Homo sapiens: one gene and its partners. The protein of the gene in region 1 purifies or fractionates together with the protein of each later gene. This does not show direct contact. Each region holds a gene or a part of one and is shown in the gene's direction. Other genes may lie near its edges.

Evidence for each region.
Region 2: the proteins of SUPV3L1 (region 1) and RBM3 purify together in Homo sapiens (affinity purification with mass spectrometry; 2 studies listed by BioGRID and IntAct, with this or other methods). This does not show direct contact.
Region 3: the proteins of SUPV3L1 (region 1) and HNRNPDL purify together in Homo sapiens (affinity purification with mass spectrometry; 3 studies listed by BioGRID and IntAct, with this or other methods). This does not show direct contact.
Region 4: the proteins of SUPV3L1 (region 1) and USP9X purify together in Homo sapiens (affinity purification with mass spectrometry; 2 studies listed by BioGRID and IntAct, with this or other methods). This does not show direct contact.

What each region holds. Positions count from the first base shown.
Region 1 is NC_000010.11:69,204,234-69,209,805, forward strand, and holds the end of SUPV3L1 (ATP-dependent RNA helicase SUPV3L1, mitochondrial), read left to right. Parts: intron 1-3,559; coding exon 3,560-3,708; intron 3,709-4,366; coding exon 4,367-4,802; 3' UTR 4,803-4,860; downstream 4,861-5,572. UniProt on the Homo sapiens protein: Major helicase player in mitochondrial RNA metabolism. Component of the mitochondrial degradosome (mtEXO) complex, that degrades 3' overhang double-stranded RNA with a 3'-to-5' directionality in an ATP-dependent manner.
Region 2 is NC_000023.11:48,569,310-48,577,483, forward strand, and holds the start of RBM3 (RNA-binding protein 3), read left to right. Parts: upstream 1-5,174; 5' UTR 5,175-5,264; intron 5,265-5,858; 5' UTR 5,859-5,871; coding exon 5,872-5,974; intron 5,975-6,251; coding exon 6,252-6,358; intron 6,359-7,004; coding exon 7,005-7,110; intron 7,111-7,198; coding exon 7,199-7,295; intron 7,296-7,716; coding exon 7,717-7,777; 3' UTR 7,778-7,800; intron 7,801-8,155; 3' UTR 8,156-8,174. UniProt on the Homo sapiens protein: Cold-inducible mRNA binding protein that enhances global protein synthesis at both physiological and mild hypothermic temperatures. Reduces the relative abundance of microRNAs, when overexpressed.
Region 3 is NC_000004.12:82,427,463-82,435,303, reverse strand, and holds the start of HNRNPDL (heterogeneous nuclear ribonucleoprotein D-like), read left to right. Parts: upstream 1-4,841; 5' UTR 4,842-5,613; coding exon 5,614-6,056; intron 6,057-6,857; coding exon 6,858-7,026; intron 7,027-7,124; coding exon 7,125-7,286; intron 7,287-7,739; coding exon 7,740-7,841. Other genes in the region: ENOPH1 (enolase-phosphatase E1), read right to left, coding at 4,391-4,474. UniProt on the Homo sapiens protein: Acts as a transcriptional regulator. Promotes transcription repression. Promotes transcription activation in differentiated myotubes. Binds to double- and single-stranded DNA sequences. Binds to the transcription suppressor CATR sequence of the COX5B promoter.
Region 4 is NC_000023.11:41,165,322-41,172,683, forward strand, and holds part of USP9X (ubiquitin carboxyl-terminal hydrolase 9X), read left to right. Parts: intron 1-550; coding exon 551-893; intron 894-2,160; coding exon 2,161-2,256; intron 2,257-2,685; coding exon 2,686-2,897; intron 2,898-4,673; coding exon 4,674-4,914; intron 4,915-5,148; coding exon 5,149-5,298; intron 5,299-6,516; coding exon 6,517-6,637; intron 6,638-7,362.

The sequences.
Region 1 (5,572 bases):
ATAACATGTTCTCTCACCTCCCGCCCTATTTCCTCTGCTTTGCATGCTCTCCCCACCCCACTAAACCCAAAGGCCTCCTCTTCTCTGAATCTTGTCCTGACTCACTGAGGTTCACTGCCATTTCCTCTGTAGGCCTGAGCATTCTACATATGAGCTATATTCTAATCAAATCTAGCTCTAAACTTATTTTTTAAATAACATAAATAGTCCAGTGCTGTGGCTCATGCCTGTAATCCCAGCACTTTGGGAGGCAGGAAGGATTGCTTAAGCCTAGGAGTTCGAGAACATCTCCAGCAACATAGCAAGACTCTGCCCTTTAAAAAAAAAATTACATAAATAATACATACATTCTCTTTATACAAAATGAGAACATTACAGATAGCTTAAATGTGGCTCCCTCCCCAATCTTAGTCCTCTGAAATAACTACTTGTGTAAGTTTGTGTGTATCTTTGCAGACTGTTTTTCATTGCGTTTGCCTATGTGCATGTTCATGTGGAAACACTAGATTTGTTGTGAGGGTGCATTTCCCCATAAAAAATTATCTTTTTTTTTTTTTTGAGACAGAGTCTCACTCTGTCGCTGAGGCTGGAGTACAGTTGTGTCATCTCAGCTCACTGCAACCTCTGCCTCCTGGGTTCAAGCGATTCTCGTGCCTCAGCCTCCTGAGTATCTGGGATTACAGGCATGTGCCATGCCTGGCTAATTTTTGTATATTTTGTAGAGGCAGGGTTTCGCCATGTTCCCCAGGCTGGTCACGAACTCCTGAGCTCAAGCAGTCCACCTGCCTCAGCCTCCCAAAGTGCTAGGATTACAGGCATGAGCCATTGTGCCCAGCCCTATCAACGTTATCTTAATGAATTACTCACAACTTGCCTTTTCTTTTTCTCTTAATAATATGTGTTAGAGATCTTCCATGTCCAGATGTTTACCTAGAAAATATGTTTCTTAGAGCTGGCATTTGTGAAAAACTTAGCTAGCATAAGGTTGAAGTTTATGGAACAGTCTTGAACTGCTGTAAACTGACCTGAGTGGAACTCAGTCCCATGGCCTTGGCACCATTCACACCATCCTTTAAACAGCTATTCTAGTGAATAGAAGCTCTTTACTAAGGTGTAGGGAGTCTCTGGAACATGCAGGTCAACAGTTGCTTGTTTTCTTAAGATAAGGTCTCACTATGTTGCCCAGGCTGCAGTGCAGTGGCACAATCATAGCTCACTGTAACCCCAAACTCCTGGGCTCAGGCGATCCTTCCACCTCAGCCTCCTGAGTAGCTAGGACTACAGGTGTGCGCCATGATGCGTGGTGTGTTTTCTTTTTGAGATGAAGTCTCACTCTGTTGCCCAAGCTGGAGTGCAGTGGTATGAGCTTGGCTCACTGCAACCTCCGCCTCCCAGGTTCAGGCGATTCTCCTGTCTCAGCCTCCCGAGTAGCTGGGATTACAGGTGCCCGCCACCATGCCTGGCTAATTTTTTGTATTTTTAGTAGAGATGGGGTTTCACCATGTTGGCCAGGCTGGTCTCAAACTCCTGACCTCAAGTGATCCACCCGCCTTGGCCTCCCAAAGTGCAGGGATTACAGGCATGAGCCACCACACCCGGCCGCTCCGTGTGTTTTCTGTTTAAAAATTAGAATATGAAATCTAGAGGCTTTTCCTTTTTTCCTGATCTTTGTCATTACTGAACTATGAAAGAGCTCAATCACATTAATGACTTAGGATGCCCCTTAGGACTGTGATTTGGAAGCTGTGCTCCATGGAGCTCCTTTAGGGCCAGCTGCTGGATGGATGGATGGATGGATGGATGGATGGGCGGGCATCTCTCCCTGCTCTCTCTGCATAGCTCCTTACTTAGCTCTTTTATGTATTGGGCTTCCACTAGTTGTTTGTGGCCAAAAAAAATAGAGCCACTGCCTTTATAAGATAACTTGAGAACTCATGCTTGGCCTGTCCTGCCTAGCAGGTAGTGTGGTCACATTTCTACCCTTTATGGCTATCCTACTTGGCATTTATTAAACTTAGCAGAGTGGACCAGACTGAATTTAACAAAATTGTGGCATTATTTAACTACAATTGATCTAAAACTGCTCTTCCTCTCTGAAGTATTAACCTTGCTTAGGTTAAGCATTTAGAGATAATTTCCCCTAATCAGGAAATGAATCATTTGAAATCAGCTTGAATCTTGAAGCTGAAGATTTTATTTAAACTCTTGCTTGAGGGGTCTTACTGTGTGGTTGTATGTCTATCTTCTGTAGTACAGGTGATGTATAATATTGCCTAATTCTGGGATGCAACATGGTTTTGAAAGCACATTCCCCAGCAGTGTCTTGTGGTTCAAGACAGGGCTGTGATGTCTCACGTTACCAGTGAGGAAGCTGAAGCAAAGAGTGTTGACTTGGCCAAAGCCACACAGCTCGCAGGAGGCAGATCCAAGATTGACTTCTGACCAGCCTTGCACCAGGCCACCTCAGAGGGTTTCTATATAATAAGGGAGGACAGCCAGGTGCGGTGGCTCACGCCTGTAATCCCAGCACTTTGGGAGGCCGAGGCGGGTGGATCACAAGGTCGGGAGTTTGAGACCAGCCTGACCAACATGATGAAACCCCGTCTGCACTAAAAATACAAAAATTAGCTGGGTGTTGTGGCGGGCGCCTGTAATCCCAGCTACTCAGGAGGTTGAGGCAGGAGAATCACTTGAACCCAGGAGGCGGAGGTTGCAGTGAGCCAAGATCGTGCCATTGCACTCCAGCCTGGGTAACAGAGCGAGACTCCGTCTCAAAAAAATAAAAAATAAGGGAGGACATTAACAAGATAGAGAAACTTAAGCTCGTATTTGAGGTTATAGGACTATTACATATGAGATAGAAATAGGAGTCTTCAGGTACTGTCTGTCCATAGCTTTAGAACATCACATATTCCTAAATAAGAGTTAACAGACTTAGGCCCTGGAAAGTTAGTCCTTCTACAGCTTCTTTTTTTTTTTAACTGCTCCTTGTGGAGCAGGGATACCCTATAGGTAGTGTGCCCAGAGTAGCCCTTGAACTTCTGCTGCACATATTATTACCCTGGTTTTAGAAAAAGAAGGAAATCATCTTTTTTTGTTTTTTCTTTCTCCAAATGGTCTCACTGCTGGAGTGCAGTGGCACGATCATGGCGCACTGCAGCCTTGACCTCCCTGGGCTCAGTAATCCTCCACCTCAGCTTCCTGAGGAGTAGATGGAATCACAGGCACACACCACCATGCCCAGCTAATTCTTTGTGTTTTTTGTATGGATGGGGTTTCTCCATGTTGCCCCAGCTGGTCTCGAACTCCTGGGCTCAAGTGATCTACCCGCTTCAGACTCCCAGAGTGCTGGGATTATAGACGTGAGCCACTGTACCTGGCCTTATAAAGTATTAAATGTTCTTTAAAATGTAGAAGAGTATAAAGGAGAAAAGAAACCACCTGTCTATTGAAATACAACCACAATGTTTTGTTTTGCTTTCTTTTTTTTCTCTTTCTAATTATAGACTTAAGGGAATTCTGACACTTCTCTGAAACCCTTTTCCTCTTTCTCTCTCAGTTTGCCAGGCAGTATAGCAGGAATGAGCCCCTGACCTTTGCATGGTTACGCCGATACATCAAATGGCCTTTACTTCCACCTAAGAATATTAAAGACCTCATGGATCTTGAAGCTGTCCACGATGTCTTGGATCTTTACTTGTGGCTAAGGTACCAACATTTTTCCTTTATGTGCTCTCATTTTTCTAGTAGGACAAATTAAAGGTTTTATGAATTTGTTTTTCTATTTCAAATTATGGACATATTTGCAAGATGCTCTATATTATGTCTATTGTCCATAAAGGCAATTCAACTGATGGAATGGTTTCCCATTCCAAAAATGACTTGAGTTCTTGCAATTCTAGTTAAGATGGCTAGGTGAGAAGGAAGGTCCACTGGACTCCTGCTGGTCAAAGGATGGTCCTTGGACCAAAAGCATTGGTATCACCTGGGAGCTTGTTAGAACTAAGGAGTATCAGGCCCATGCCTGACTTGATCAGATTCTGCATTTTAACAAGATCCCTGGGTGATTCACTTGTACATTATCATTTGAGAAGTCCTGTTCTAGGCCAGTGATTCTCAAAGGAGGGGCATGTCCCTCTCCAGGAGTATATCAGAGTCTATTGAGGTATAGTGCTGACCCACCCTCAGGATGACATATTCCTCCGATATGTGGGGGCAGAAATCAAGGTTGAGCAAAGGCACTGAAGAGAGTTTGCAAAAAGAACATTTAGAATTTATCAATGTCATGATGTAGGTGTGCCATTGAGAGTTGTCCAGTGACTGCGATAAGAGCTGTTGCTATAATGCTAATGTGTCTTTTTCCCAGCTACCGATTTATGGATATGTTTCCAGATGCCAGCCTTATTCGAGATCTCCAGAAAGAACTAGATGGTATTATCCAAGATGGTGTGCACAATATCACTAAATTGATTAAAATGTCTGAGACGCATAAGCTGTTGAATTTGGAGGGCTTTCCATCAGGGAGCCAGTCACGATTGTCAGGAACCTTAAAGAGCCAAGCTAGAAGGACACGCGGCACCAAAGCTCTAGGGAGTAAAGCTACTGAGCCACCCAGCCCCGATGCAGGAGAGCTGTCCCTTGCTTCCAGATTGGTGCAGCAAGGACTCCTCACTCCAGACATGCTGAAACAGCTAGAAAAAGAGTGGATGACACAACAAACTGAACACAACAAAGAAAAAACAGAGTCTGGGACTCATCCAAAAGGGACGAGAAGAAAGAAGAAGGAACCTGATTCGGACTAGTTTTCTGTTCCTGTTTTTTTTTTTTTATTTAATTTTGCAAATAAAAATTTATTTTGAATCCTTTTTCCTCATATGCATTTACTCCCTCCTCTAGTATTGTGGCTATCTGGTACTGGGGGATTTTTGGTGTGTGTGTGTGTTTGTGTGTGTGTTTGTTTGTTTTTTCTTTTTTTGCACAGAAAAATCTCTCTTGATGACTAAACTTGTTTTTTTTTTTTTCAACATTTAGAAAATACTAGGATATCATGGAGGTTTAATTTAAGTCTTTATATAATGGCCATTTGTAGAATAGTACTAAGACAGTGCACTATAAGGAACTCTGCATGGGAATAAAATCACTTTGGTGAATTGTTTGACCAGTTTCCTATGCCATGCTGAGGATGTCATGGATGCAGTTCTTTGACAAACATTGCTGTCTGTTGTACCCATATACCAGAGGCTATTTAGGTGCTGGAAATATGCAGTAAGCAAGACTGACAATCTTCTACCCTCATGGATCTCATATTTGGTAGGAGAGACAGGAACAGGTTAACAAATAAATCCTGTCAGATCGGTGAGGGCAGAGATTGTAGTCTATTTCACTACTGCATCCACAGTATCTGGAATATAGCAGAAGCAAAATCATTCTTTGTGAGATGAATGGGTGTAATTTTAGAGATGAATGCTAGAAAGAATAAGGAAAGAGTGATGCTGAGTGGCAGGGAAGGGCTGTTTTAGGTAGGGTGGTCTTCCCTTGTCCAAAGGCCAGCCTACACTTGTTCAACGAAGTT
Region 2 (8,174 bases), on another chromosome or scaffold:
AAAAGAACAAACAGAATGACAAAAACAACTAATAGGACTAATAAGAGAGTTCAGCAGCCAGGCGTGGTGGCTCACACCTGTAATCCCTGCACTTTGGGAGGCTGAGGCGGATGGATCACCTGAGGTCAGGAGTTCGAGATCAGCATGGCCAACATGAGGAAACCCCATCTCTACTAAAAATACAAAAAATTAGCTGGGCGTGGTGGCACGTGCCTGTAATCCCAGCTACTCAGGAGGCTGAGGCAGGAGAATCACTTGGAACCCGGGAGGTGGAGTTTGCAGTGAGCCGAGATCGCACCACTGCACTCCAGCCTTGGCAACAATAGTAAAACTCCATCTTAAAAAAAAAAAAAGGGGTTCAGCAAGGTTTCCCAATACAAAATCAACATCAACCTGTAAAAATCAAAAGCATTTCTGTATAGCAGCAATAACCAACAAAAAAAAAAAGTAGGAATGAATTTAATACAAGAGACCTCTATTTTAAAGAATTTAAACTCTAACAATAGAAATTGATCTGAATAAAAGAGAGACATTTTATGCTCTTTGCTGGAAAGATTTTGGTAATATATAAGTTATTTTTAACAAATTATCCCAAAACTTAGTGGCTAAAACAATACACATTTATTATTTCACATGGTTTTGGAGAGTCAGGATTCTGAGAGTGGCTTAACTGGGTGGTTCTGACTCAGAGCCTCTCATGAGGCTACAATCAGGATGTTGGCCAGGACTGCAGTTATCTGAAGGCTGGGATCCACCTTTAAGAAGGCTTGCTCACATGGCTGTTGGCAAGAGGCCTTACTTTCTTGCCACCTAGATCCCTCCATAGGGCTGCTCATGACATACCAGCTAATGTCCCACATAATGAGCAGTCTGTGTGACAGAGAGCATGAAGCAGATGTGCCTTTTACAGCCTGGTCTTGGAAATGACACACTATCACTTCCACCTCATTCTGTGCTTTACAATTGAGTCACTAAGTCCAGCACACATGCAAGTGGAAGGAAGTTAGGCTCCAACTCTTGACGAGTACAGTATCAGAGTGTGACCATATCTTAAAACCTCCACAGTTAATATTATTAAGATGTTATTTTGGCCGGGCATGGTGGCTCACACCTGTAATCCCAGCACTTTGGGAGGCCGAGGTGGGTGGATCACCTGAGGTCAGGAGTTTGAGACCAGCCTGACCAACATAGACAAACCCCGTCTCTGCTAAAAATACAAAATTAGCCGAGCATAATGGTGGGTGCCTGTAGTTCCAGCTACCCAGGAGGCTGAAGCAGGAGAATTGCTTGAACCCGGGAGGCGGAGGTTGCAGTGAGCCGAGATTGCACCATTTTACTCCAGCCTGGGCAACAAGAGCGAAACTCCATCTCAAAAAAAAAGACGTTATTTCTCCCAAAATGTAAAAATTCAATGCACTCTCAATAACACTTCCATTACTTTTTTTTTTAATGTTTTGAAACAGGGTCTCACTTTGTTGCCCAGGCTGGAGTGCAGTGGCACGATCATAGCTCACTGCAGACTCCAACTCCTGGGTTCAAGCGATCCTCCTGCCTCAGCCTCCCAGGTAGCTGGGATTTGGGCGAGAGCCACCATGCCTGACCTCATTACTTCTTTTTGTTAGAACTGCAATACACTTACATTAGAATTTAGAATAGTAATGAATCATGGACAGTTAAGACAGCCTTCAAAGAAAGCGTTATGATGGGGATTTGCCCACTAGATATTAAGACATATTAAAGGTGTTAGTAATAAAAGGGAAAAAAAAAACAACAACAAACCTATATTGGCCCAAGAGCTAAGAAGTAGACCAATTAGAAGAGAAGGCCGGGCACGGTGGCTCACACCTGTAATACCAGCACTTTTGGAGGCCGAGGTGGGCAGATCACAAGGTCAGGAGATCCAGACCACGGTGAAACCCCGCCTCTACTAAAAAATACAAAAAAAAAAAATTGGCTGGGTGCGGTAGCAGGCGCCTGTAGTCCCAGCTACTCGGGAGGCTGAGGCGTGAACCTGGAAGGCAGAGCTTACAGTGAGCCGAGATCGCGCCACTGCACTCCAGCCTGAGCGACAGAGCGAGACTCCGTCTCAAAAAAAAAGACCATCCTGGCCAACATGGTGAAACCCCATCTCTACTAAAAATACAAAAATTAGCTGGGCGTGGTTGCACGCGCCTGTAGTCCCAGCTACTCAGGAGGCTGAGGCAGGAAAATCACTTGAACCCAGGAGGCGGAGGTTGCAGTGAGCCAAGATCGCGCCACTGCACTCCAGCCTGGCGACAGAGTGAGACTCTGTCAAAAAAAAAAAAAAAGCTCAGAAGTCAGGTACAATAGTGCTCCCCTGTAATCCCAGTTACTCAGGAGGCTGAGTTGGGGAGAATGCTTGAGGCCAGGAGTCAGCCTGGGCTCATCTCTTAAAAACAACAATAACAACAAAACCAGCAACAAACCACCTCAGAGACAGACCCATATATCTATGGAACTTGATACATGATAGAGGTGGTAAAACACACACAGGGATGGGACAGATTGCTTAATAGATGGTGATGGGGCATCTGGCTCATGACACAGAGAAAAATAAAATTGGAGCTCTATCTCACACCATATACAAGGACGAACTCTACATGGATTAAAGACCTAAATGTGGCCGGGTGCGGTGGCTCATGCCTGTAATCCCAGCACTTTGGGAGGCCGAGGCAGGCGAATCACTTGAGGCCAGGAGTTCAAGACCAGCCTGGCCAACATGGCAAAAACCTGTCTCTACTAAAAATGCAAAAATTAGCCAGGTGTGGTGGCACACACCTGTAATCCTAGCTACGCAGCAGGCTGAGGCAGGAGAATTGCTTGAACCCAGGAGGCGGAGGTTGCAGTGAGCCGAGATAGTGCCATTGCACTCCAGCCTGGGCAACAAGAGCGAAACTCTGTCAAAAAAAAAAAAAAAGAAAGAAAGAAAGAAACTGTAGGGGAACATTTTGTGACCTGGGAAAGAGAATGATTTCTTTAAAAGCACAGACCAGGCCGGGCGTGGTGGCTCACGCCTGTAATCCCAGCACTTTGGGAGGCCGAGGCAGGCGGATCATGAAGTCAGGAGTTTGAGAACAGCCTGAACAACATGGTGAAACCTCATCTCTACTAAAAATACAAAAATTAGCTGGGCATAGTGGCACATGCCCGTAATCCCAGCTACTCAGGAGACTAAAGCAGGAGAATCACTTGAACCTGGGAGGCGGAGGTTGCAGTGAGCTGAGATCATGCCACTGCACTCCAGCCTGAGCGACAGAGTGAGACTCCGTCTCAGAAAAAAGCACAGAACATAGGGGGAAAAATGATTATATCAAAATTATGGATCTTTATTCAACTAAGTTTACTGCTTACAAAGTTAATAACACAAATGCCAGAGCTGGAGAGGCTATTTCCAACACCTAAGGGATTAATAATTAGACTATGTGAGGAATCCCTGACAATAACAGGAAGATAAATATGGGAATTACCCCAACAGGAATATGGATGTACTGTATTCTGTATGTTAGCAAATTTGGTCTGTGTTGGGCAAATTCATTCTATGGATAAGAAATTTAGCCTCTGAGGGCAAACTAACTTATTCTTCGTTGATGTGGCGCTCAGAAGTGAAAAATCTGTCAAATCCATTTATTGTAAAGGTGGCCAAGACACTGAAGACTAAATTGTGAACAGTGGGCTCAGACACTACTTGATTGGGATAAGTCTATTGTGTATTGCGAAAGTCCCTTCTGTGAATCAAGGGCTCAGTTACTTTTTTTTTTTTTTTGAGACTGAGTCTTGCTCTGTCGCCCAAGCTGGAGTGCAGTGGCATGATCTCAGCTCACTGCAACCTCCACCTCCCGGGTTCAAGCGATTATCCCGCCTCAGCCTCCTGAGTAGCTGGGACTACAGGTGCCTACCACCACGCCCGGCTAATTTTTTTTTTTTTTTGTATTGTTAGTAGAGACAGGGTTTCACCATATTGGCCAGGGTAGTCTTGAACTCCTGACCTTGTGATCTGCCCACTTCGGCCTCCCAAAGTGCTGGGATTACAGGCATGAGCCACTGCGCCCGGCAAGGGCTCAGTTACTTTCGAAGAGAGCAAAAATTGCTCTATGGATTGGGATTTACAACCTCTGAAGATCGTAGCATCCTCTTTTGTTTTGTTTTGTTTTCACCCAGGCTGGAGTGCAATGGCGTGGTCTCGGCTCACTGCAACCTCCGCCTCCCGGGTTCAAGCGATTTTCCAGCCTCAGCCTCCCGAGTAGGTGGGACTACAGGCACGTGCCACCACACCCAGCTAATTTTTTTTTTCTTTTTTTTTTTTTTTTTTTTTTTTTGTATTTTTAGTAGAGATGGGGTTTCACCATGTTGGCCATGCAGGTCTCGAACTCCTGAACTCGTGAACCGCCCGCTTTGGCCTCCCAAAGTGCTGGGAATACAGGCGTGAGCCACCGCGCCCGGCCAGCATCCTGTTTTGTAAAAGCCATCTCAGGCAGTCTATTGGTGAGAAAATTAAGGGGCTGGCTTCACGCCAGCAGTCAGACAAGGGTGAGGGCTGAAGTCAGAGATGAGATGGAATGACGCCAGGGAAAAGGGTCCCATGACAGGCGGCTAGATGTTGAGCACAGAGGAGAAAGAGTAGGAGTCAGGGTCAAACCTTAAAACGTTGGGTCTGACATCATGGACTGTGAAGGGTGATGACATCAGTGACGGTGGGGGATAAAATGTCAGGCCTTTAAAGGGTATGAGGTTAAAGAACTAGAAGGTGAAGGAGGTTAACATCAGAGAATGGCAGGGACCTAGAGGAAGACGACTACGATGGTGAGGAAGACATCCGATCCAGCGGGGGAAATGATGGCAAGGACGGGAGGATGATGTCAGGGACAGCAAGTAGTATGAGATTGAGAAGGTTCCTTTGTGGAAGGGATAAAGGCAGCTCAGCCGGTTGTGGGGGGGATGCTGACGTTTAGGGTGCACCAGCTGTTCAAAAGTCGACCCCATTTCCGGAAACACCCCATTTCCGGAAACACCCCATTTCGCGGAGAACACTGCTCCCTTCGCTTTGCTGTCCCTTCCTCTCCCCACCACTCCGCTCCTGCTGGCCTCAGCCAATCAGCACGCACGCCGGGACGCGCAAGGGGAACGTTCCGGGACGTTCTCGCTACGTACTCTTTATCAATCGTCTTCCGGCGCAGCCCCGTCCCTGTTTTTTGTGCTCCTCCGAGCTCGCTGTTCGTCCGGGTTTTTTACGTTTTAATTTCCAGGTAAGTTGCATATGTCCTGCGAAACGGCGGCTCCTCGCCACACACGCGCCGCGCCGGCCGTGACCGGGGAATAGCGAGTGGGGAGAGTAATGGCCACTGACACGTAGGCTTGGCTTTCTCTGGGACGGGCGGGTCCCGTGCTTGGAGGTGAAACATTTCGGTTGGTGGGAGGCCGGCGCGCTGTATCTGAGTGTGAGGCCTACCGGGAGGGACTGGTGGCGTCGGTGGTGGCAGTGACCACGCGACAGCCGACACTTACTTTCCTTATCCCACGTGGCCGCCGCCATCTTGTTCTGCCGGCGTTAAGGGAACGCAGGGATGTTCTGGGCTTGCGCAGTGGCACAAAATGACGGGCGTGGCGGCTATGAATGTGAGAGCATGCGCAATGTGGCCCCCTAATGGTGGCTGCGCTGAGCCAGCTCCTCAGATTACCACCTTATTGGCCGCCTTTCTCAGCTTTTCTGTAGTTACCCATATTTTGTTCCTCTTTCTTGTCTATTTTCTGTGCTTTTTCTCTGCTTTCCGTCTCGCTATTTTCTCACATCTCCATTTTCTTTCTCCTTCCTGCCACCATTCTTCATGTTCTTCCCACAGGACTTGAACTGCCATGTCCTCTGAAGAAGGAAAGCTCTTCGTGGGAGGGCTCAACTTTAACACCGACGAGCAGGCACTGGAAGACCACTTCAGCAGTTTCGGACCTATCTCTGAGGGTGAGACGGGCCATACTCACAATGGGGGTTGGTGAGAGAAAGTCTGGGATCCTTGCATTTCAAGGAGTATTAACTGAAAAGTTAGGACCCACGCCTCCAAATTCTTTTTCTTCCTAAGCCTATGGTGTAGACTAAGGATGAGGGGAAGCGTCTTTGGGATTAGTGGGAGCGCTCCGTTTTCCCTACCTATGCCATCTCCTTTTCCGGCCACCCTTTGCTACTTAACCTTTGGGGTACTGACTGGTCCACATTGCTCCATCTTCTCTCCCTCTCACAGTGGTCGTTGTCAAGGACCGGGAGACTCAGCGGTCCAGGGGTTTTGGTTTCATCACCTTCACCAACCCAGAGCATGCTTCAGTTGCCATGAGAGCCATGAACGGAGAGGTGGGGCCTCCTATCTGCAGAGGGACCTTGTCCCCATCTGCGGCTTCCTTCATTCTTTTTGTTTTTCCCTCTGTGTCTGCTCGGGGCAGCGTGGCCACCAAGCCCCGCAGTGCCCACTCACAGGAGCATGACTGCCTTTTGTTCTAGGGGGTGGAGGGCAGCGGCAGACAGAGCCTGGCCGCCTGGGAGGCGACGACTGGTCCTGCATGAGGCCGAGAAGCCACCTGTGGATGGTTGACCTGCCTTGGGCTTAGGTAGTAGAGTCTGCAGACCTGTGGGCCTGGCCCGGAGAGGACCTCGTGAGTCTTCTGACATGGACTCTGAAGCCTCAAACCAAGAGAGGTGTCTGTCTAGCCCTGATAGTCGGGCAGCTTAGAGGAGTGGGGAGGAGAACTCAGCCTGAGTTCAGTCAAGATGTAAGTAGTAGCAAGGGGAACATGGTGCATTCAGGTCATTTTGTGTGGGATTCTATAGCTCCTGATGAAGCCATTCTGGGGTAAAGGAGCTTATTCTGGAACATGGCACCCAGAACCTGGTGCCCAGCAGGAATTTTTGGCCTCTTTTGCCCACTTACCCTTGCCTGCTCTTCCCTCACCATTGCCCTGACTGACTGCCAACCCATCATCCTTGTGTCTCCCACACTTAGTCTCTGGATGGTCGTCAGATCCGTGTGGATCATGCAGGCAAGTCTGCTCGGGGAACCAGAGGAGGTGGCTTTGGGGCCCATGGGCGTGGTCGCAGCTACTCTAGAGGTGAGTGCAGTGATCGTTTTGATCATGGGGTGAGAGGGAGAGTTGCCTATGTGTGGACAACTGCCATTTAAATATTTTTCTGCTCTAGGTGGTGGGGACCAGGGCTATGGGAGTGGCAGGTATTATGACAGTCGACCTGGAGGGTATGGATATGGATATGGACGTTCCAGAGACTATAATGGCAGGTGGGTAGCCAAAGGGCTGGGATGTTCTCCTATTGCTTCCCTCTCCTTAAGAACTCAGCGCCTGGGTGTTCATGCATACCACACCTTGCTGTTACTAATGTGTACCTAAAATGAGTATGAAATTTAGCATTTTAAGTTAATTGTGTAGTCATATAGTTGCGACATGGTAAAGTATACTATATATGTTGTGCTGTGTGGGTTATATAACTATATTGCTTTAACATGTAATATGATTTAATATACTGCGTATAAATCGTATGCCATAAAACTGTTTACTGTGATACTCATATGCTTAACATATCCTGTTTTTGATACGTAAGGTTTATGTTATGACCCATACTGTAAAATGTGACGCATATAATTACAGTGGTATATATAATGCAGTACCAGAAAACTTTTGTGTGTTTTTTTTCCCCCCCAGAAACCAGGGTGGTTATGACCGCTACTCAGGAGGAAATTACAGAGACAATTATGACAACTGAAATGAGACATGCACATAATATAGGTGAGACTTGGATATCGGCATTGAGTGAACCTGTTTGTCACACTCTGTCATGACCCTCTCACCTTTTCTGGCAAGACTGCTCTGCATTTCTGCTGCCCTCATACCTCACCCAGCCAACCTACCAAACATTCCTAGCTAGGCCTTCCTTGCTCTCAGGTGCATATCAGAGCAAGTTTGCTAGGGGGTGGGATCTGAAAACCCATCTCCTATAATCTTCTACTCTTGTGTGGGATGGAGGAAATGAAGGTGTGTCCCTGTTGTCCAACCCTCAGCATCTTCATCAGCTCTAGGAGGTGAGCATGTTGTCAGCTGTTACTTCATGACATCACAATTCTCCCCCTCTTGCTGTTCCCAGATACACAAGGAATAATTTC
Region 3 (7,841 bases), on another chromosome or scaffold:
TGTGAAACCCCATCTTTATAAAAAATAAAAATAAGCTAGCTAGGCATGGTGGTGCACACTCGTGGTCCCAGCTACTCAGGAGACTGAGGTAGGAGGATTGCTTAAGCCTGAGAGGTCGAGGTTGCGGTGAGCTGTGATCGTGCCACTGTACTCCAGCCTGGGTGACACAGCCTGACCCTGCTTCAGAAAAACAAAGACAAAAAAGAACAAACACCAGAGGTATGTGTCCTGCGGTAAAGTGCAGGGATGGTGGCGGTGGATTTAGATGCGGTGGGAACATCTAAGGAAAACTGGGCTCTGCTGCAGCTCTACTCCCAACAAATTTTGATGATCCTCAGGCAAGACACAAAGACATGCTATAAACTGAAATTTGTTACCATATACTTTTTTTTTTTTTTAAAGACAGTCTCGCTCTGTCACTCAGGTTGGAGTGCACTGGCACGATCTCGGCTCACTGCAACCTCCGCCTCCCAGGTACAAGCGATTCTCCCACCTCAGCCTCCCCAGTAGCTGGGATTACAGGTGTGCGCCACCATGCCCAGCTAATTTTTGAATTATTTATTCCTTTTTTTCTTTTCTTTTCTTTTTTTGAGACAGCGTCTTCCTCTGTTGCCCAGGCTGGAAGGCAGTGGTACAATCTCGGCTCACTGCAACCTCCACCTCCTGGGTTCAAGTGATTCTTCTGCCTCAGCTTCCTGAGTAGCTGGGATTACAGGTGCCCACCACCATGCCCGGCTAATTTTTGTATTTTTAGTAGAGACGGGGTTTCACCATGTTGACCAGGCTGGTCTCAAACTCCTGACCTCAGGTGATCCACCTGTCTCGGCCTCCCAAAGTGCTGGGATTATGAGCCACCATGCCTGGCCTACTTTTTGTATTTTTAGTAGAGACTGGCTTTCACCATGTTGGCCAGGCTGGCCTCGAACTCCTGACCTCAAGAGATCCACCTGCTTCGGCGTCCCAAAGTGCTGGGATTACATGCCTGAGCCACCGTACCTGGCTTGTTACCATATACTTTTATAGCACAGTACTTCACATTGATTAAAGAACTCTCATACTAACTGTGTCATTTAACATACACAACCACCAAGCAAAGGAGACAGGACAAACAGTAGCATCCCATTTCCAAGGCTGAGTGCAGTAATGGAAAAAATAAGAGTTTTTATGAATAAGACAATCTGAGTTCAAATCCCAGGCATCTTGTTCAACTTTTCAGAGGCTTTGTTTCATCCTAAGTAAAGTGTAGACAGTACATACACCTCATGGTCTTTTAGAATGAGTCAAGGATTGAGTACTGCACGTATACAGTACTCAATGTTTCCTTCCATCATTCCACAGAAGGAAGGGCTACAAGTTCACACACCTACTCTGACTTTAAAGCTCCAAGCAGATTATCTTTCAACTCCCATGCTCAACCTTTCCGTGCTCAGATTCAAGAATGTAACTCAGCATCTCTTTAAAAGGTGTTTAAAAGATTAGTCACTGAGATACTCTACTAAAAGTTTTTTGTTCAAGTAGATTTGTGAAATGTCACTCTCTTGAAATCTCACAAAGTGTGTATGTGTGTATATATATGTATGATACCGAAGGTTCTGAGAAGTCTTGCAATAAAGAAATCTATTTGAACTCATTCTAACTAGCATTTCCCAAAAGTGCATTTAATGGAATCCTTTTTTACATAATTACCATAAACATCCACACAGACCTAACTTTCTTTTAAACATACTTTTAGGAAAAATGGTTTTGATAAATTCATGTCTAACAAATTATAATAATAGATTAGATTATAATAGATTAACAATATTAATAACAATAGATATTATTATAGGACAGGGCACAAGAAATTATCCTTTAAACAAGATCCCTAAATCATTCTTTTGCAGCCTGCATTGAAATTGCACATTGCCTAGCGTCAAATTCAGAAAAATTTATTTAGGCAACTAAGACATTTTTATTTTTGGATTTCAGAATAAGTCTGCCACAGACACAAAGATTCCAAGAAGTGGCTCATAATGTCATCTAGCAGAAGACACACTTGGGGAAAAAGGTGGGGGAGGGGTATTATGTTTTGTTGCAAAATTGATTTTGTATGAGGTTTCTTACTCCCCAAATCTACCTTCAGAAAACGGTAGTATCTAATGATCTAATGCCACATCACTACCTCTCCTGTCCTTATCCTTGGTCTCCTGATGACCGCAGAAAGCAAGAGAGAGCCAGAGTGGAACGAGTGAGCTGTTAACTATAAATTACAAAAATGAGGACTCCTTTTTTCTCTGAAAACCAAGAAAGCGGTTACTCTGTCACAATCCAAAAAAAAAGGAAATTAATCAATCATCAGTATTTGTCCTGAAATTTTCCGCAGAGGTCTCTGGTGTGATTAAAAACGTGGGGGAAGGTCAGGCGCGGTGGCTCGCGCCTATAATCCCAGCACTTTGGGAGGCCGACACGGGAGGATTACCTGAGGTCAGACCAGCCTGGTCAACTAAAAATACAAAAATTAGCCGGGCGTGGTGGTGCGCGTCTGTAATCTCAGCTACTCGGAAGGCTGAGGCACCAGAATCGCTTGAACCCCGGAAGCAGAGGTTGCACCACTGTATTCCAGCCTGGGAGACAGAACAAGACTCTGTCTCAAACAAAACAAAACAAAACAAAACAAAACGTGGGGAAGAGGCCGGGTGCCATGGTTCACGCCTGTAATTCCAGCACTTTGGGAGGCTGAGGTGGGTGAATCACTTGAGGTCAGGAGTTTGAGACCAGCCTGGTGAAACCCTCTTCTACTAAAAATATAAAAATTAGCTGGGTGTGGTGGCACATGTCTGTAATCCCAGCTACTGGAGAGGCTGCGACAGAAGAATCGCTTGAAGCTGGGAGGCAGAGGTTGCAGTGAGCTGAGCTCACACCACTGCACTCCAGCCTGGGCAACAGAGCGAGACTCCGCCTCAAAACAAAAACAAAAACCGTGGAGAAAATGCTAAACTCGATTTCTTCTGAACCTATGCTAAGATGTCAAGGTACTGTGATTCTTCTAAAAGAATTTTAAAGGTTGTTATGTTTGGTGTCCTAAAAGTGTACATGGATTTTATATTATAACCTACATCAAGAAACTCATTCAGGCCAGGCGCCTTGGCTCATGCCTGTAATCTCAGCACTTTGGGAGGCCAAGAATTCCAGACTAGCCTGGGCAATATGGCGAAACCCCGTCTCTACAAAAAATACAAAAATTAGCCAGGCATGGTGGCTCTCCCTTCAGTCCCAACTACTCGAGAGGCTGGGGCAGGAGGATGCCTTAAGCCCAAGGAGGTAGAGGCTGCAGTGAGCTGTGATTGCACCACTCCACTCCACTCCAGCCTGGGAACAGAGTGAGACTCTCAAAGAAAAAAAAAAAAAAGCCTTATTCACAGATAATTTTTTTTAAAAATGGAAACTAAAATAGAATTTAAAACCCAAGCTGCTCAGTTTCTTGGAAGATGGATTTTTCCTACTTGGTAATATACTTTGTATATCTCGACTATTATTGTGCATGCAAGCACCTCTAAGAAGTACTTGTATCTGCAATGAATTCTTAAACCTCAGGGAGCCAAATAAAAAGACAAGGCCCGAGGAATTCTTTCAAAAATTAAAGTAACATTTCATATTTGCTTATTCTAACAGACAAAGAATAAAGAAGGAATCCGCTAAGTTGCAAGCTGAGGTGCAGACAAGTGCTGGTTCACAGTGACATCCTAGAAGGAATGCTCTGGATAAGAGCTTCAAGCTTCTGTGGTTTTCTGAGGAAAGTGAACGGAATCTAGACGTGTCCTATAGCTCAAAAAATCAGCGCTATGGACCACAGCGCCTAACAGAGTAAAATAATACACTGTGCAGTTTGGCCACTAACAGCAAGAGTGGGAAGGGGCGAAGAGGAACCTTGATTGCCCGACACCAGGGCCACCTGAAAAGTCATCTTGACACTTCAGTCTTTCCATTTTGAGATCGGAAGCTTTAAGGACCATTAAATCGCTGCCGCTGCCACACCAGGCCCGACGGAGCAGAAAGGCTGCGCTCACCTGCGGAAGCGACCGGGTGCACACCTGCCGGGTGGCGAGGCCCGCACCGTCACACCCCGCCCCGGCTTACCTGCCCTTCGGTGATTTTTAGCGTCAACTTCCATCCCTTCCCACCCATCTGGATCCAACCAAGCGCAAGGGCGGGGGAGGGAGAAGCTAGTGTCGCGAGGAAAAGCATCCCCGCAACCCACCGCAGGCTTTCTCTCCTTCCTCCCCATTCCACACAAGAGGCAGCCACACCGCCTCTCCTAACCCTCGTCTCCAATGCAAGGCCTGAAATACTTAGAAAAAATAATAACTGTTTTTAAGGAAAAGTAACATCCCCGCTCCCTTCCGCCCCTCACCTTCACGAAAGCAATCGGGGTTGTGGTACCTTCGATATCTAACAGGATCACGGTGACTTCGGCGGGGACCGAAAGCACGACCATTTCCCTACCGGATGCTACGGGACTCGGCCTGCTGTTGGGGAGGGCGGAGGGCGGCGCCGGCTGCGGCTGCGGCCCCCGGTACCGTCTTGGGCTTCCGGCGGCCCCGCGCGATCTCGGAGCCAGCGACCAAGTGCAGCCCGCCGCGCGTGGGGAGAGGACACTTCTGCACACCTGGAACTGGAAAAGGCGGCCGCCCAGGAGCCCTGAACTCGTGAGCAGGACGGGGCAGGAGCCCGAGACCACGTGGGCAGGAAAAGGGGCGGCCCTTGACGGGTTCGGCGGGGCGGGGAGGGTGAAGGCGCCAGCGCCGATTGGCCGCCGTCAGGCCTCGAACTGGATCCGTCAAAATGGGCCTCGCGTGGGCGGGAACAAAGAAGCGAACGCGGGAGCAGGGTGCGCGAGAGCGCGCCCTCCGCAGACAGGTTGAGCGAGCGGGAGAGGCCCGGGGCACGTGCAGAAAGGAGCCCCGCGAGTGGCGCGCCGGGGATGTGAGTGCCCCTTGCCCTCTACTGAATCCAGCCCCCTCCCCGCCCACCGCCTCCGCCTTTGCATAGATACAGTCATCTGGCCAGCCCCCGCCCCTCCTCCCGGCGTCAGCCCGCCAGAGGCCGCGCGGGGCCCGGGCTTCGGCCGATCAGCCCGGGAGGCCCCGCCGCGCCCCCTTGGCCCGCGCGCCCGTGGTCACAGTGGAAGAGGCGCCCGCGCTGCGCTGCCCGGAGGAGCCGTCGCGCGCCCGCTTCCTGTTCGGCTGGTTCCTGCCAGCTCGAGGACAAAACACGCGTGCGCGCGGCGGGCGAGCGCGCTCGCCGCCTCAGTCGCCAGCGCCGGGCGCAGTCCGCCTTTTTCCGGAGCAGACTGGCCGCGGTGCTAGTCGGTAGCAGCGGCCGCCGCAGCGGCTCCGCACTGGCGAACCGAGGGCAGAAAAAGGCGGGGTTGACGGCTTTTTGGTAGGAGTGGGCTGGACCGGACGCCAGAGACAAAGGCTCCCAAGGCAAGAGGGACTGTGGCCCTGCGTCGGCTCTGCTCGGGACTGCTGACCCCAGGAATTTACGCCCCTTCGTTTTTCTCTTCTGATTCTTCTCTTCTCCCAAGCCCGCGTCCCCTCACGCGTGGCCTCTCTCCTTGCCGGGAGGGCCGCGATGGAGGTCCCGCCCAGGCTTTCCCATGTGCCGCCGCCATTGTTCCCCTCCGCTCCCGCTACTTTAGCCTCCCGCAGCCTCTCCCATTGGCGGCCGCGGCCGCCGCGGCAGCTAGCCCCGCTCCTCCCTTCGCTCGCTCCCAGCTCCGCCCGGCAGGGGGCGCGCCGGGCCCAGCGCCACGTCACCGCCCAGCAGCCCTCCCGATTGGCGGGCGGGGCGGCTATAAAGGGAGGGCGCAGGCGGCGCCCGGATCTCTTCCGCCGCCATTTTAAATCCAGCTCCATACAACGCTCCGCCGCCGCTGCTGCCGCGACCCGGACTGCGCGCCAGCACCCCCCTGCCGACAGCTCCGTCACTATGGAGGATATGAACGAGTACAGCAATATAGAGGAATTCGCAGAGGGATCCAAGATCAACGCGAGCAAGAATCAGCAGGATGACGGGTACCGCACGCTTCTTCCCCCGCTCCCCCTCCCCCAGCGCGCCGCACGCGCCCTTCGTTCCTCGTGAGCCGCGCGCTGCCCCCATTCTTTCTCAGAGTCGATTCCCCGCGTGCCTTCTGGGCCCCACTAGATTGGAGGGAAGAGGAAAGTAAGAGATCGAGGGGGTGACTGGAGAGACCCGGGAAGAGTGGGGGAAGGGCGGAGGGGTTGGAGGAGGAGGGCGGCGGCGTCTGTGTCCCGAGCGCGCAGGCGCCGCGTGGGACCCGGGGGGGAGGGGCCGGCCTCCCAGCGCTGCACGCTGCAGCTGCCGCCGCCTCTTCATTGTGTCTCTGTTACCACTCGGCGCGGTTTTCCTGGGAAGAGTTTTAGAGGACTGAGTTGGGGCACAAGCAGGCGACTGGTACCCAGATTCACAAAACGTGTTATGATTGATGAGTTCTCTGGGTGGAACGTTGGCTTGACAGCTGAGAACGAAGATGGACCTAAGTAAGATAAGATGTGAGGGATTCATCTAGGAAGTTGTGCCTTCTACCTAAAGGAATCTGGGCAGAACCTTTACTGTATTTTATTGGTCTCTTTTGAGCTTTGCTTTATGTAGTGCGGACAGTGAGCTGTCCGCTGGTTTGAGTAACTTCGTTGGGATATTGGGATTTTTGTGTGACATAGATTAAATGTAAACATGAATTAAATTGCCTACACTTAGGGGGTAAATGTCCCTGTTTTTATTTCACGATTTAATTCCAGAACTGAAGGATCATTTGAGTTATTGTTAATTTTTTTTAAAAACACTTTTATTTCTAGTAAAATGTTTATTGGAGGCTTGAGCTGGGATACAAGCAAAAAAGATCTGACAGAGTACTTGTCTCGATTTGGGGAAGTTGTAGACTGCACAATTAAAACAGATCCAGTCACTGGGAGATCAAGAGGATTTGGATTTGTGCTTTTCAAAGATGCTGCTAGTGTTGATAAGGTAGGAACTATGTTTTGCATTGTGCTGCTTTTGTGGTGTTTTGCAAATTTTTCTGGGGGTTATATGGTGCTGTCAGATTAAATAAATCTGTCTTGTAGGTTTTGGAACTGAAAGAACACAAACTGGATGGCAAATTGATAGATCCCAAAAGGGCCAAAGCTTTAAAAGGGAAAGAACCTCCCAAAAAGGTTTTTGTGGGTGGATTGAGCCCGGATACTTCTGAAGAACAAATTAAAGAATATTTTGGAGCCTTTGGAGAGGTGTGTGATTATGTTTACACATGTTAAGCTTGATGTGTTTATAAAATGTTCAATCCTTGTCCGATTTATGCAGGGCAGATTCATGTTTCCTGTAAGAGTAGAATTAAATGACTGCTCAAGTCGCTTCCAGTGACTGTACCTTGATTTCATTGCTGCTCTGATGGAAACCCAACTATCTAATTTAGCTAAAACATGGGCACTTAAATGTGGTCAGTGTTTGGACTTGTTAACTAGTGGCATCTTTGGGTACAAAATAATATTAATTTCTCTCAATGCTTCAAATATACAACAAATCACTGTAGGCTGATGTTGATCATAAAGCAGTGATGTCTGTATAGAAGTCACCCGATAAGAATAACATGTTTAAGTTGAAGCCTGAAAAGGCCTTTGGCATTCTGACACTGTAACGTTTTACAATTATGGGATGACGTTGAGTGTGCATCTCGATTTCAGATTGAAAATATTGAACTTCCCATGGATACAAAAACAAATGAAAGAAGAGGATTTTGTTTTATCACATATACTGATGAAGAGCCAGTAAAAAAATTGTTAGAA
Region 4 (7,362 bases), on another chromosome or scaffold:
TTCAATTGATTCTCATGCCTCAGTTTCCCCAGTAGCTGGGACTACAGACATGAGCCACCACACCCGGCTAATTTTTATATTTTTAGTCAAGATGGGGTTTTGCCATGTTGGCCAGGCTGGTCACAAACTCCTGACCTCAGGTGATCCGCCCACCTCAGCCTCCCAAAGTGCTGGCATTACAGGCGTGAGTTACTGTGCCCAGCCTAAGTCTTTTATTTTTAACTCAAGCTACTAAACATGCTTCTTTCCAAAAGTCTGGTTTCAAAAACTAAAGGTTCATGGAATGAATCTTTTATTCCTAATTCAGCTAGCTGCATTTCAGGCACAAAGTGGGTGTTCAGTGTGTGCTTGTTGAATTAATTAATATCTAGTGGGGATTTTTTTTTAGTACCAGATAAAAGTAGAGAAATAGGTTATTTTGAAAGAATGAATATCTTTTTATCTATAGTTAAAATATAATGGTGATAAATGTATTTTATAGGTAATACAGATTGCCTTTCCGGATAAAAATTACATAAATCTAATTGCCAATTTTCAATGTTTTTTCAAGATTTTTATTGAAGGATGGTCAGCTGTGGCTATGTGCTCCTCAGGCAAAACAAATATGGAAATGCTTAGCTGAGAATGCAGTTTACCTTTGTGATCGTGAAGCCTGTTTTAAGTGGTATTCCAAGTTGATGGGGGATGAACCAGACTTAGATCCTGATATTAATAAGGACTTCTTTGAAAGTAATGTGCTTCAGCTTGATCCTTCTCTGTTAACTGAAAATGGAATGAAGTGTTTTGAGCGATTCTTCAAAGCTGTGAATTGTCGAGAAGGAAAACTAGTAGCAAAAAGGAGAGCCTATATGATGGATGACTTGGAGTTAATAGGATTAGATTACCTTTGGAGGGTAAGTCAAAAGTAGGAACTCTGTAAATGGTGTCTGATGTACTTTTTCATGTACGTAAGGAATTGTAATTTTGCATATAAATTGTGTATTTTACTCTGATGTTTGTCTCAGGAATTTGGTGTAGTTAGGAATTGTTCATTTTTATTATGTCACCTGTCAGTGGGCTTTTTCTTCTCTCTTCCTCTCCCTCCTCCTGCCACTGATGTTCCTTTTGTCTTAGCTTAGTATCTGTGTATTCCATAGATGTGCACTAAACATACAAATCTTTCATTCCTCCCCCGTGGATATTAATGTTCCTTCCCGAGTTTTCATTCAGTGTCGATCTGTTTCCTCCTCTTCAATGTTTAACACTAAAATAGAGGACAGAAGAGAGGACTTGTGTTTAGTATAGATTATGAGTATATGCTTTATTGGCACTGTTTACCTTGTGATATTTTTAAATACCTGGGGGAATAAAATACTATCTTTTTAAGGCTAATCTATTTTTATAGTACTACTCTATTATGCCTATCTTTAATCTGACCTGTTATACAGCAGTTTATATTGTTTGGATGTCTCACATATTTTCCTGCAAACCATAGATAAAGATGTTTATTGTGGCATTTGAGTATTTAAAAGCTTTTAATTAAGTATGTGGTTTTCAACATTGTTTTAACAGCAGAAACACATCTTAAAACTCAAAATTTGCACCACACTACAAAAGTAAACTGAATTGAACAAGGAAAATATGTTTTCTTACTTGGTCTCCCCATGCTTATCCCCTTTCCCCTCCCCAACCCTTTTATAGGGGCCAACACTGAAACACTTCCTCAAAGTCCCCTAGGGTTCTGAACATAGTTTGGAAACCACTAATGTAATTAGATGAGTGATAAAGATTTATAGAAACTGGGGGTAGAGTAGTCCTTTATGCTAAACTGTGTTTCATGTAATCTCTTATTTCCTGTCAACTAATTTGAATTTCTTCTTGAGTGTCTCACTTGGTTATCAAGATATTAAATTATAGGGTTAAATAATAGTGGTCAAAGCGTATTTTATTTTTACAAAAATGTACCTTTCATTCTTAAATTATTCAGAGACTTTCATTTTGCATTTATTACCCTTTCTTTTGGTCTGTGCTTCTCACTTAATTTTACTTGATTATCAAAGTCAACTTACCATTAAATCATTGAATAGTGTGTTTAAGATAACTGAGGATATGGTTTGAATTTAAATGCCCAACAAAAATATATGTTGAAAGGGATGAATACTTTTATCATTTTGAAACCAGGTCGTGATTCAGAGTAATGATGATATTGCCAGCAGAGCTATAGATCTCCTCAAAGAGATATACACGAACCTTGGTCCAAGACTACAAGTCAATCAGGTGAGGATTGATGTGCATTAAAACTTCCATATATAATTCTTTCGGCCCCCATTTCTCTTATACAAAAGAGAAAAAATATTATCTAAATGAATCTTGCCTTGTTAGTTGTCTTGAAGTGATTGGGTTATTTTTAATATAACTATTTATTAGATGTTGAAATGGCAAAGAAAGTCTATGTGAATTCATTTTGATGCTAACACCTAATCCTGAAGTTCACTTTTGACTAATTTATGTTTGTTAACTTATGTAATGCTAGCTTCCTTTTAATAAACATACATTTTATTATTGTATGGATTCTCTACTTAAATATGACTGTTGTTAATTGAGTGCTACAATTAAATCAGCCATTGCCATCTTTAATTGGATTAATATTTGGTTTTTACATTTTAAAGCAATTTTAACTGTGTTTATTTGGCCTGATATTTGTAGGTGGTGATCCATGAAGACTTCATTCAGTCTTGTTTTGATCGTCTGAAGGCTTCCTATGACACATTGTGTGTTTTGGATGGTGACAAAGACAGTGTTAATTGTGCAAGACAGGAAGCTGTTCGAATGGTTCGAGTATTAACTGTTTTAAGGGAATATATAAATGAATGTGACAGTGATTATCATGAGGAAAGAACAATTCTCCCTATGTCGAGGTTTGTGAATAACTAATCTATTGGTGCTAATTCTTAATTATTTGATATTTTCCTAGCCATTTGGTAAAAGGAGAGCAGAAATTTTTCTCGTTTGAAAATTGTTGTCTTTGCCCATTAAAAACATTTTCATTTCATCTAATTTTTTTTAATAACCTCCCCCACTCTCCCATCTGGTTTTGTTTTGGTTTTTTGGGTGAGGCATTCTTAAGTTGTTTTCTAGTTTTCTTTTTGTCTTTGACATTATTACTCATTAAGTGTTGCAGTGGCATTTTGCAGTTGAAGTGTTTTTGTTTATTTGTTTATTTTGAGAAAAGGTCTTATTCTGTCACCCAGGCTGGAATGCCGAGGTGTAATCATGGCTCACTGCGGGCTCAAGCGACCTTTCCACCTCAGCCTCCCAGGTAGCTGGGGCTACAGGCACAGGCTACCACACCTGGCTAATTTTTTTTGACTTTTTGTGGAGGTGGGGTTTCACTACATTGCCCAGGCTGGTTTCAAACTCCTACGCTCAAGCAAATCCTCCTGCTTTGGCCTCCCAAAGTGCTGGGATTATAGGCGTGAGCTACAGTGCCTGGCCTGTAAAGAGCTCTTAAAAGCTGCCTTGCATGGCATATAACAAATATTTTCAAATGGTGTTTATAGTTTTGGGATGTTTTGTGTAGTCAATGCCATCATTTTTTTTAAAGAGTTTTGTTTATTAATCATGAAATTATATACAGTTGCTTCTTGAATATGATTTTTATTTTGTATTTTACTTTAAAAAAGGTACTATACCAATATAAATAGCATTTTGGAGTGAATTTTGATATGAAGGCTTTTTTCCAGAAAAAAAATAAAGTGCATTGTGGCATTTTTGTTGATGCTTTTAACAAAATGTAAAACGACCTTTTAAATGTAAAAGGTAAACTCTACCTTCTTTTTTTGAATTTTTTTTTTTATTAATACAAGGTCTACCTATGTTGTCGAGGCTGGTCTTGAACTCCTGGGCTCAAGGGATCTTCTTTGCTTGGCCTCCCAAAGTGGTAGGATTACAGGCATGAGCCACTGCGTCCAGCCAACCTTTTACATTTAAAAATAGTCTTAGTGAGTTGGGCTTTTACAGCATAAAAATAAGCGTTATATCTTGGATTTAATTTCATTTTAGTAGACACCTCATTTTCTGCAACCATAGATACAAGACTAACAACAATAGAATATGATTATGTTTTTAAATATTATTTATATTTTTAGTTAAAAGGAGCAATATTTTTTTTTCTTTTGCATTTCACTCTTGTTGCCCAGGCTGGAGTGCAGTGGTGCAGTCTCGGATCACTGCAACCTTTGCCTCCCAGGTTCAAGCGATTCTCCAGCCTCAGCCTCCCAAGTAGCTGGGATTACAGGCGCCCACCACCAAGCCTGGCTTATTTTCTGTATTTTTAGTAGAGATGGAGTTTTACCATGTTGGCCAGGCTGATCTCGAACTACTGACCTCAAGTGATCCACCCGCCTCGGCCTCCCAAAGTGCTGGGATTATAGGCATGAGGCACCATGCCTGGCCTTATTTTCAAGATACTGAAAGTAATACAGGTTGAGTATCCCTAATCCAAGAAATCCAAAATTTGTCTGGTCCCAGACATTTCATATAAGGGATTCTCAAGCTGTATTAAGTATCTTTAATTCACATCCTCTTGTTTAATAAGAAAATACTTAGTGTTAAATCCCCAGCATTATTTTCTTGGCAACAAAATTTCAGAGTCTGCTGAATATGATGATGTCTGTCTTTCTTTTTCCCCCCAGAGCATTCCGCGGTAAACACCTCTCTTTTGTAGTTCGATTTCCAAACCAGGGCAGACAGGTTGATGACTTGGAGGTATGGTCTCATACAAATGATACAATTGGTTCAGTACGACGATGTATTCTCAATCGTATTAAAGCCAACGTAGCCCATACAAAAATTGAGCTCTTTGTGGGCGGTGAGCTGATAGATCCTGCAGATGATAGAAAGTTGATTGGACAATTAAACTTAAAAGATAAATCGGTATGTATGTATAGTTAACAGATTTTTCAATAAAATCAAACCAGAGACTATCGTTTAATCAGTAAATACTAATTGAGCATTTGTTATGTTTGGGACTGTGTTAGGTGTTAGAGTTATAGCATTAAAGTATAGCATGTAGTCTTTCGGATTTTTTGGTTGGTATATCACTAAGTTTTGTGTTTTGTGTAAGTATTTTTCCTTGTTTTTGATATTAACATAGTATATAATTTTCAGCTTATTACAGCCAAACTTACACAGATAAGTTCCAATATGCCTTCAAGCCCTGATAGCTCTTCTGATTCCTCCACTGGATCTCCTGGAAACCATGGTAATCATTACAGTGATGGTCCCAATCCAGAAGTGGAAAGCTGTTTGCCTGGAGTGGTGAGTAGATACAGTTTTGAACTACTGTATGTAAGGCATCATGCTAGGGTTTTTGAGAATAAAGTATATAGAGTGGTTCTTTCTTTTCTTGAGGAGCTTACAGTTTAATGAGACAAAAAAATACAGTTAACCACCAACTTCAGAATGGATCCCTCTAAAAGGTAATTGTAACACAGTTGGAATTTAAAACATAATTTCCCCATAGGTATAGTATTGTTACTTTTACATAAAATTAACCAATTAGAGCTTAATTATAACACTATTGGATGTATAAATTTAGAGGAAAACAGTCATCCCTCGTATACGTGGAGAATTGGTTCCAGGACCTCTGCATATACCCAAAATGCTGCAGATGACCCTGTGCAACCAGATATACAAAAAGTTAGCCTTCCATATACTTGGGTTTTGCTTGCTGGAAATACTGAATTTTCTGTCCACATTTGATTGGGAAAAAAGTCTGCATGTAAATGGACCTGTGCAGTTCAAACTTGTGTTGTTCAAGAGTCAGCTGTATCACTTTCTAAAATTTATACCACAAAACGGATAGTTCTTTTAGAACTATATATGAGCTGGGCATGGTGGCTCACACCTGTAATTCCAGCTACTGGGGAGGCTGTGAGGCAGGAGGATTGCTTGAGCCCAGGAGTTCTAGGCTGCAGTGAGCTGCGATTGTGCCATTATGCTCTAGCCTGGTCAACAGAGTGAGACCCCATCTCTAAAAATATAAATAAATGAAAACAAGAACTATGTAGGAAAATACCTGTAATCTTTATCAGATTGTCAGTAACATATAGCCAAAGAAATATTTTTAAGCTCTCCTTTCGCCCCTCCCGACAGAAATTTTAATGGTTACAATAGTAGCAGCCACTCCAGTGTCAGGAGGATTTGGCTCTCTATAACAACTGGATTAAGAATTTGGTAGTGGGCATGGCAGCCTTTTGTTATGTCCAGAGTCTAAATTGTATATATGAGAGAAATGGTTTAATAGAACAGGAGAGGAGCTATCACAAAAAAATGACTGGAAGTGACTTGATGATGTATTTGATCTGCACTATTAAGGATTTGTAGGGATTAAAAGATGGGAAAGTCAGACTATTTCAAAGAGTAGAAATTTCATAAGTAAAAGTATAGGGATTAACACAGAGAAACTTACTTGGGCTTTTATAAAACGGGAGTAAATAATTTAGAGGTAATTATTTTGTGTATTTTATATTCTAGATAATGTCACTGCATCCCAGATACATCTCTTTTCTTTGGCAAGTTGCAGACTTAGGTAGCAGCCTAAATATGCCACCCCTTAGAGATGGAGCAAGAGTACTTATGAAACTTATGCCGCCAGGTAAGAATTTTTAAATGATGATCAAGTACTTGCTGGACAATAAAGGAGTATATTAGCAAATTCTGTTTCTAAATGGACCGTGCTTTTTGGTATAGACTATAACAAGAGTTGACAGATGACAGCCCACAAGCCACATCAAGCCCCCTGCTTGTTTTTGTGCATCCCAAGAGCTATATTTTTAAGTGGCTACAAAAAAAAAATCTAGAAGAATAATATTTTGTGATACATGAAAATTATATGAAGTTTAAATTTTAGTGTCCATGATCAAAACCAGGCTCATTTGTTTACATTCAGTCTACATGACTGCTTTTGTCTTAAAATAGCACCGCCCAGGAGTTGTGGCAGAGGCCATATGGTTCACAAGCCTAAACTGCTTAACTTTCCTGGCCCTTTACAGAAAATGTTTGCCTATACCTGGACTATAATATGGGTCATGTGTCATCTGCGGTATTGTTCCTTTTTTATCCTTAGAAACAACCACTTCCAACTTCTCGCTTTTACTTTAGTATATATATGTACCATTATGTCTGGAGTGTCCTCATACAGCTATTTCTTTGTTACTTACAGATATATACTGATTTTCTGCTGTGTAGATGAAAACTTAACTGTTACATACCCCCACATCCTCCCAGTATTTGCTTAAATCCAGATTCAACATCTACGTTTCCAAGATTGTTTGAAATATAGTTCTCTAGATCACTGACAACTTTTATCCTGGATTTAAT